Linked DNA regions of Homo sapiens. The protein of the gene in region 2 purifies or fractionates together with the protein of the main gene of each other region. This does not show direct contact. Each region holds a gene or a part of one and is shown on either strand. Other genes may lie near its edges. The genes, in order: EPHX1 and SHISA2.

Evidence for each region.
Region 1: the proteins of SHISA2 (region 2) and EPHX1 purify together in Homo sapiens (affinity purification with mass spectrometry; one large-scale study listed by BioGRID and IntAct). This does not show direct contact.

What each region holds. Positions count from the first base shown.
Region 1 is NC_000001.11:225,816,613-225,820,415, reverse strand, and holds part of EPHX1 (epoxide hydrolase 1), read right to left. Parts: intron 1-3,803. UniProt on the Homo sapiens protein: Biotransformation enzyme that catalyzes the hydrolysis of arene and aliphatic epoxides to less reactive and more water soluble dihydrodiols by the trans addition of water.
Region 2 is NC_000013.11:26,049,011-26,053,297, forward strand, and holds the start of SHISA2 (protein shisa-2 homolog precursor), read right to left. Parts: upstream 3,007-4,287; 5' UTR 1,966-3,006; coding exon 1,632-1,965; intron 1-1,631. UniProt on the Homo sapiens protein: Plays an essential role in the maturation of presomitic mesoderm cells by individual attenuation of both FGF and WNT signaling.

The DNA.
Region 1 (3,803 bases), on a different chromosome or scaffold from region 2:
AAAGAGTGAGCTAAGAAAATATACTTGGGGACAGGCGTGGTGGCTCATGCTTGTAATCCCAGCACTTTGGAGGCCAAGGTGGGCAGATCACCTGAGGTCAGGAGTTCAAGACCAGCCTGGCCAACATGGTGAAACTCCGTCTCTACTAAAAATACAAAAATTAGCCGGGCATGCCTGTAATCCCAGCTACTCAGGAGGCTGAGGCAGGGAGAATTGCTTGAACCCAGGAGGCGGAGGTTGCAGTGAGCCAAGATCACACCACTGCACTCCAGCCTGGGGAACACAGCAAGACTCTGTCTCAAAAAAACAAAAAAAAGAAAGAAAGAAAATATACTTGGGAATGTGAGGATTTTGTGGTTGAGTGAAGAAAGGTGGCCCAGACAGGAGATTACTCAGAACTCAAAGGTTCACCGCAGCTGTCCTTGATGAGCTGGTGGCTGCGGCAAATACGCCATCAGATTGGGATGTTGAGGCAGACTGCTAGCAATGTTCTCTCCTTCTTCCTTAGCAAAGGATTTTTAATTTTAGTTGGAGAAGACCAGCCAAACACTTGACATTTCTTGGCCCCCTGGCAGCTAAGTATGACAGAGTGATTAAGTGCGGACAAAGAGTTATAAATGTATTAGAGCAGAGCCACCTGGGGCCCAGACAGTACCTTGTGTCAAAATTTTCTCCAGTGCATCTGAAATCGCACTGTGATCCTGTCCCCCTAAACTTTGTCTTCTCTTGGTGTTCCCTCCCTCAGTAACTGACATTACCCGCCCTGCTACTGCCAAGCCAAAAACCCAGGCAACGTCCTTGAAACCCCTCTCCTTCACTCCGCCACAGATATCAGTAAGTTCTGGCAGCTGAACTTCCAAAGTACATCTCAAATCCATCTCCAACCCAGCCCAGGTTCCTGTGGCTCTCCCCTGGACTACTACCCTGCCCGGTCCACTCACATCTGCTCTACCCCTTCCAACACAATGGCCACTCTGAAGCCACAGCAATCTTTTTAAAACATTTTTTTTTTTTTTAGATGGAGTCTCTCTCTGTCCCCAGGCTGGAGTGCAGTGGCACGATCTCGGCTCACTGCAACCTCCGCCCTGGTTCAAGCAAGTCTCCTGCCTCAGTCTCCTGAGTAGCGGGGACTACAGGCGCATGCCACCATGCCCAGATAATTTTTGTATTTTTTTTTTTTTTTTTTTTTGAGACGGAGTCTCGCTCTGTCGCCCAGGCTGGAGTGCAGTGGCGCAATCTCGGCTCACTGCAAGCTCCGCCTCCCGGGTTCACGCCATTCTCCTGCCTCAGCCTCCCAAGTAGCTGGGACTACAGGCGCCCGCCACTACGCCCGGCTAATTTTTTGTATTTTTAGCAGAGATGGGGTTTCACCATATTGGCCAGGATGGTCTCAATCTCCTGACCTCGTGATCCGCCCGCCTCCGCCTCCCAAAGTGCTGGGATTACAGGCGTGAGCCACCATACAAACCTTTTTTTTTTTTTTTTTTTTAATGGAGACAGGTTCTCACTATATTGCCCAGGCTGGTCTCAAACTCCTGGGCTCAAGTGATCCTCCTGCTTTAGCCTCCCAAATAGCTGGATTACAGGCATGAGCCAGGCCAGAGTGATCTTTTGGAAATGCAAATCTGATCATGTATATCCCATCCCCTGCGAAACCCTTAAAGAGCTTCCCATTGTCCTTGGGTTAGTGTGGCCTTCAAGGCCTGTGTGATCTCACCACTCCCCTAGCCCCTCAGAGTGCTACTGGTATCAATATTATGGAGAAACAGTTTACTTGAAAGCTAAGTGAGAGTTTTAGGGCTGGGATCTCACGCTGCCCCCCGATCTTTCAGTTTTGTGCTCACCATGCTGTCTTACTGTGGGGCTTTATGAAGGCGAATCCCTCTGTCGAAAAGCTATTCCCTCCCCTTCCCACCTCCCTAACTTCTATCCACCTTTCAGATTTCAGACTGACTGTCCCTCCTCTGGGTAGCCTCTCCTGACCTATCCCAGCAAGGCAGATCTCTCAGTCCTAGCCTTCGTCGAGCTCACATTTGTCAGGGTGATTATGTGACTGACAGCTGGACGGAAGCTCCTGTAGGCCACTGACCATGTCTGCTTTGGCTCCCATCTGGACTCTCAGTGCCTGGCATTCTAGTAGAAGCTTAATTATTTGTTGAATGAATGAATGAATTTAAAAATTCTTTGAATGAGAGCATAGAAAATTAATCAGAACTTTTGAACAAGAAGAGCTGAATTCCCCTTGAGGAATAATAAATATAACCTACTTAGCCTAGTTGGTAGAGACAGACCATAAGATGCAGGAAGAGGGCTGAGTAGGTGGCATGAGGCACTATAACGCCCCCTGACCCCAAAGAAGACTGGAGAACCAGTATCCTAGGCGCACTACAAATATCAGGGTTTTGGGTCTAAAAAGATGGGGTCAGACTCAGATCCGGCCACACAAAGTAAAGGGCAGGTCTACCGCCTGCCCAAAGACTCCCCTCCCCCAACCCAAGCAAGCAGTCAGAACCTCACCACAAGAAAGTGCTCCTAAAATCGCAGTAAAGTGCTAGCCGGCCATGACTCAGCACTTGCCATGTGCCCGGCCTTGGCTAAGTGCATTGCAGGGCAGAATGCCCAAGTATTTTTCCAGAACAAAGGCCATGAGGTGGACCCAGCCCTGCGACAGTTGGGCAGGCCTGGCTCTGACTGTGTTTCTCTAATAGTGACTGAGACTCACAGCAGCGTGAAAAGCCAGTGCTTCTCCTGGGGGAAGTCTGCCACTTTGGGGAGGAAAGTGTGGGGGCAGAGAGGGTAAGGGAAAAACTATGGCATGACCTGCCCCTCAGATGCCAGGCCAGAGAGGTAGGTGGGCTTGGAGGGTCTGCTGCTTCTGCAGGCCTGGTCCCAAGCCTGCCCCCATACTGCCCTCCCCAGCACCCCAGCCTCATCACTCCTCCCTGGGGAAGGCGAAGGGAACATCCAGTGGAAAGGGAAAAACGGATGGCTTCCCTCCCATTCCTGGCCTGCCTGCCAAGCGGACGCAGGATGGGAGCCTGGGAGCGTTCCTGCTGTGAACTCCCTGTCAGCAGCTACCCAAGCCTTGGGGCTCCCAGGGGCTTCCCAAAAGCCATCCTGAAGCTCCCAGCCCCACTCCCTTGGCTGGCCCAAGAGTGACGGAGGCAAACCCTGGGGGGAACTCCCAGCTTCTCCCTCAGCCATTGTCCCTGAACCCCAGGGACCCCTGGAGACTCAGGATGGAAGAGGCCGGATGCAGGCAAGCTGGGATTGTGCACCAGGCCAATGGCCGTGTTTATCTCTGTGCAAGCGCCGGAGCCAAGCCCTGGGAAAACAGCTTAGAGCCAGAAACCAAGGGAAAGGAAAAATGCAGTTTACAAGCAGGAAAAAAAAAGCTGGGGGAGAGTAAAAGAGCAGTAAAAAGTGTCAGGAGACAGCCTTCTTGGGGGCAGGAGTGCTGTTCTGGGGCATATCGCCCTCTGTGTGGGAGGGAATTCCCTCCACCTCCATGCTATCTACATGTCTGGAGAGATAGAAAGAAAACAATTTGGGATTGGCACTGGGATGCCAATGTGGTTGAGGGAGCCCCGAGCCAGCCCGCGGGCAGTTAGGCCCTCACTGCCTGCTTTGCTGCCTGGCCCTGCTGCCTGCCAGCCATGTAGCCTCAGGTCAGTGACTCCACTTCTCCAGGCCTCCGTGGCCCCATCTGCTGTGGAGGGTCTGGAGAGGGGAAGGGGAAGGCCACGCGGGTGGGCTGGCCAAATCCTGTGCACCTTCGGAGAGGGGACGGCTACTTCCACACT
Region 2 (4,287 bases):
TGGCGTGTTATAAATATTTCATTCTCTAAATTAAGACACCAGCCCTAAATATGTTATCAAAAAATAAATTAATAGTAGTAAAGCAGGAAAAAAAATGTACCCCAATCATAGCAGAAACTAGCTGAAACCAGCCTCAGTCCACATAATGAGTTTTGGGGAGAAATAAGTGTTCTCTTTCCAGGATTTTTAATTGGAAATGTAAATAACTACACAGGGATAAGGAATGTAACGCTACTATAAGCCCCCCGGCAGGCTTAATTAGGCATGTTGCCCTTCACTGCAGAAGAAAAGTGAAAGAAATACAATTTTTAGGAAAAAAACGTTTAAAAGTAGCATGAAGAAGGCATCCATGCACAACACAGGGCGTCATGAGAAGTCTCGTCCTGAGAAGTCCCGACTAATCCAAAGCCATCCCAACTTTTTGGAGACCATTAATGAGCCCAATCTAGCAGACATCTCACTGTAGCAGTTCGGGGTCTGGCTCCCTTCTCTGGGCTTTCTTCCATGGCCACACAGTCTGCGAGACTGAGCTTGCGTTTTAAGACTGCGCTGGTTCTGGAATTACGCTCTCTTCAGATTCAAGACAGCAGAACAATAGGAGTAGCATGCTAATAAAATGCTTGACTGCGAAAGGGAACGGCACTGAAAAGAGCTGTCTCTCACGAGGTCCTGGGAGGCAGCTCTATAAACACAAACTACGCTGTGCCAAAGCTCAAGCAGCCCGAACCCAGGCTCAGGATGCTAGCGAAAAGCCTCCCAGGTAAACACAACGGGCCCACAAAGAGGAGGAGCCGCCCCCTCGGGGACACGTTTGCCATTTTACCTCTACACCTCCCCTCCCCCGAAATAAATAACACACACACACACACACACACACACACACACACACACGGAGTGACTGGTGTAGACACCCCAGGGAGGCATTCCGGAAGGTTTCTGAAGAGTGAAGTGCAACCTACCAAATTCTTTCACGGGTTTACTTTCCAACTCTGGCTTTGGCAATTTGAAAGAAAAAAAAAATCAAAGCCACAAAGAGCAAGGCTGGGCACTGCTCCGATGTTACACCTACTAAGTCTGACGTGGTAAGGAAAACAGTCCAGAAGCCCCACAGGCGGGCCGCTGCAGGGGAGAGGGGCCGCCGCGTGGAGAAGATGGGAATCCGCGGCGTCTGGCACGGGGCAGCAGCCCCGGGAAAGCCCTGAGGAGCTGCCTTCCTTTCGGGGAGCCTTCAGGGGAGCACCGCTGCCAGGCCCTCACGGGTGGGGGCGCACCCTCGCCGTCTCCTTGGGTACCCCTAAGACATGAAGCCCTATGGAGACAGGAGACGCCAGAGGGGCCCGGAGGACCCTGGTCAGAAGGAATATGGGGGCTGTCTGTGGCCCACACTGCCTTAGGAGTGTGATTTTGTTCGGAAAATTAACTCTAAGCCACCCTTTGGCTGACAGATGGAGAAACTGAGGCCCGTGAGGGTGAATTAGGGACCCACACCGACCAAATAATAAGCCAGAAGGCAGACTCCGCCTCCTGGTCCTAGGCCCTTTCCTGAATTTCCCCCCTTCAAACTCCCAGGTCCCTGACGTCCAGGCAACGCCAACCGTCCTCCCTTTCGCGCTGGGCGCAGGCCGCCCTACCTGCCGAGCCGTCGGGGCCGTCTTTGTCCGCCCGGCCAGGCTCGCCAGCGCCCTGCTGGCGGTCATTGTCGCAGCCGCCCTGGTCCAGGCGCGCCTCGGCGCTGGAGCAGCAGTAGCGCAACGCGCAGCTGCCGCAGCAGATGGTGGCGTCGCCGCCGTCGAAGCGCTCGGGACACTGGAAGCCGATGCGCCAGACGCCCTGCGCGTCCAGCCAGCCGTGGCAGTACTCGCCGCTGGCCCTCGCCCCCGCCGCCAGCAGCGCAGCCAGCAGCAGCTGCAGGAGCGAAGCGGCGTTCCAGGATGAGGAGACGGACGAGCGGCGAGCGCCCCACATGGCACCACCCTGGGCGCGGACAGCGCGTCTCCAGAGAGCGCAGGACGGTCTCCGAGAAGTCGTGGCCCCGGCGACCCCCGGGCCTCGTCACTGACTGTCCCGCGGCGCTTTCCGCGCGGGCCACTCCCCTCTGCCGCGACGCCCAGGAGGCGACGACGCCGGGCCCTAGGTCCAGGAGCTCCTAAGCCATCCCCGTCCTCAGCCGGTGGCCCGGTCCCCTTAGGGACTGCCTTATGAGTTGCACTCGCTGATGGAAATCTCGGGATGCAGTCAGAAGGCCCCCGGGGCTGTCGTCCGGAAGCCTCTGGAGGTTTCACTGGCAACCGGACCCTCCCTGAGCATCCCCGAAGGGATGCTCACTCGAGCCGAATGACCGCTGGGCGCGCCGCCGCGGACCTGGAGCCAGGGCTCTGCGCAGGGTTTAAGCCTCAGGGTCCCGCGCGCGAATCAGGGCCCGTCTCCCCTCCTTTATTCCCTCCTCGGGCGGGTAGAAGGGGCGAAGGCGGGCAGTGCACGCAAGGCTCTGGGCAGCAAGTGACGCAGCCGGCCGCGCTCAGCCTCCTCTGCCCCGAACTTGGTCCGCATGGCTCCGGCCGGGCCGCCCGGGCAGCCCACGGGGGTGCAGCCCCGACGCTCCACTCGGCGGGGCCGACGGCCAATCTTCCCAGCACGTCGCCGAGGGAGCGCTCCTGACCCCGGGAACGTCCAGGACGCAGGCGAGGGTCCTGCGCGCCCCCAGCCGCAGTCCCGGGAGCCTGCCCAGCTGGCGGCGGCCGCGGCTGCTGCTGGGCGCGGATCCAGGCGGGCGGCTCGCCCCGGTTCCCCTTCTCCGCCTCCCCGGCTGCAGCGCGGTCCCACAGGAGCCCGGCAGCCTCCGGCCGGCTCTCCCTCTCCCGGTCGCTGCCTCGCCCTCGGGAGGTGTGCGCACCGATGGAAGCCTCCCACGGAAGTTTCTTTCCTCCGGGCTACGGGAGAAGCCGAGCGCAGCAGCCGCCCACAGCCTCGCCTCGCCCCGCCCGGCGCCAGACCAGCTCCGACTCCGCTCGCTGCCGCGCTGAGCCGCGCTCTTATAGAGGCCGGCGGCTCCCCGGCGCGCATGCGCGCTGCGCGGCTCCCCCCCACCCCCGACCTCAGGGACGCCCGCGGGCGCCGGGCAGCCCCTCACTTTCCTACCCCGGGCAAGGAGAAAGGTGTGGCCAAGGGCGGGGTCTGCCTGCTGGAATAGGCGCGGGAGGAAACCCAACCTAAGCAATCCAGGCCTCGCTAACACAAATAACAATAATAACGGAAGAAACTCAACTTGCTTTGTGAAGATCTTTGGCATTCAACATTCGGTTCGATTCTGCAAACTTCTCAAGGGATTATGATTACTTTCCACTCTGCAGATCATAAAATCGCCACTCAGATGAACTCTCTCGGCTTCCAGCAGCTGATGTCCTGGCCACGGTTGGTCCCAGGCCCTGTGCAGGAAGAGCACCGATGTTTGTGGCAGGGTTCACACGCCTAGGGCTGTGTTTGGTGGACTGGAGGCCTCCACCACAAGGTGGAACGGAGAGAGTTCAGCAAAGATGTCACACATTCGGCCACGGTGTGGATGATCTGTGTCCCTTTTTCTTTCTATATTTGGGTGTGGTGATTTATCGGATTCCAGCAGGAAAGTGCCTCCGTCCAACATGTGGCCTTAGTGGTTTAGACAGCTGCAGTCAGGAAGAAAACAAGGTTCAGACAGACCAGAAATTCAGCTTTGATGAAGGAGAAATTAATAGCTTCTCTCTTGCAGAAGCTGGAACAACAGGTGCTGATGTTATTAAAGCAGCAGTGCTTATTTTTAAAGGAACGAATGCCCCTTCCCACACCGTCTGGGAGTCAGCAGACCTGAATTCTAGACCCAGCCCTACTAGCAGGGAATCACTGCGTTTTTCTGGTCTCAGTTTCTTCATCTATAAAGTGGAGCATAGGATGTGACGATCACTAAGGTCCCTTTCAAGTCCATGACTTCAGAACACAGGCAGTTTTATTCACAGCAAAGACACTCAGGTTCAAGCAGCCATTGGATGCTTGTGTATGCCTGGTTAATGTGAAGATTCAGACATTGTTGATTATTCTTCCACTTGCCCCAACAATGTCAAATCCAAGAAAAAAAACCCTACCCTATGTCCCTGCTCCCCAACACACACCTTATTCTTTTCACTAAACCTCTCTCCAAGCATTGCACTTTGTTTTCTTGCAGTTTTTTGGTTGTGTATCGTTTTAAGCTACACAAAATTATATACTTTAAATGCACTATTCACCAAATGTCTTAAGCTAGTAAGCTAAAAAAAA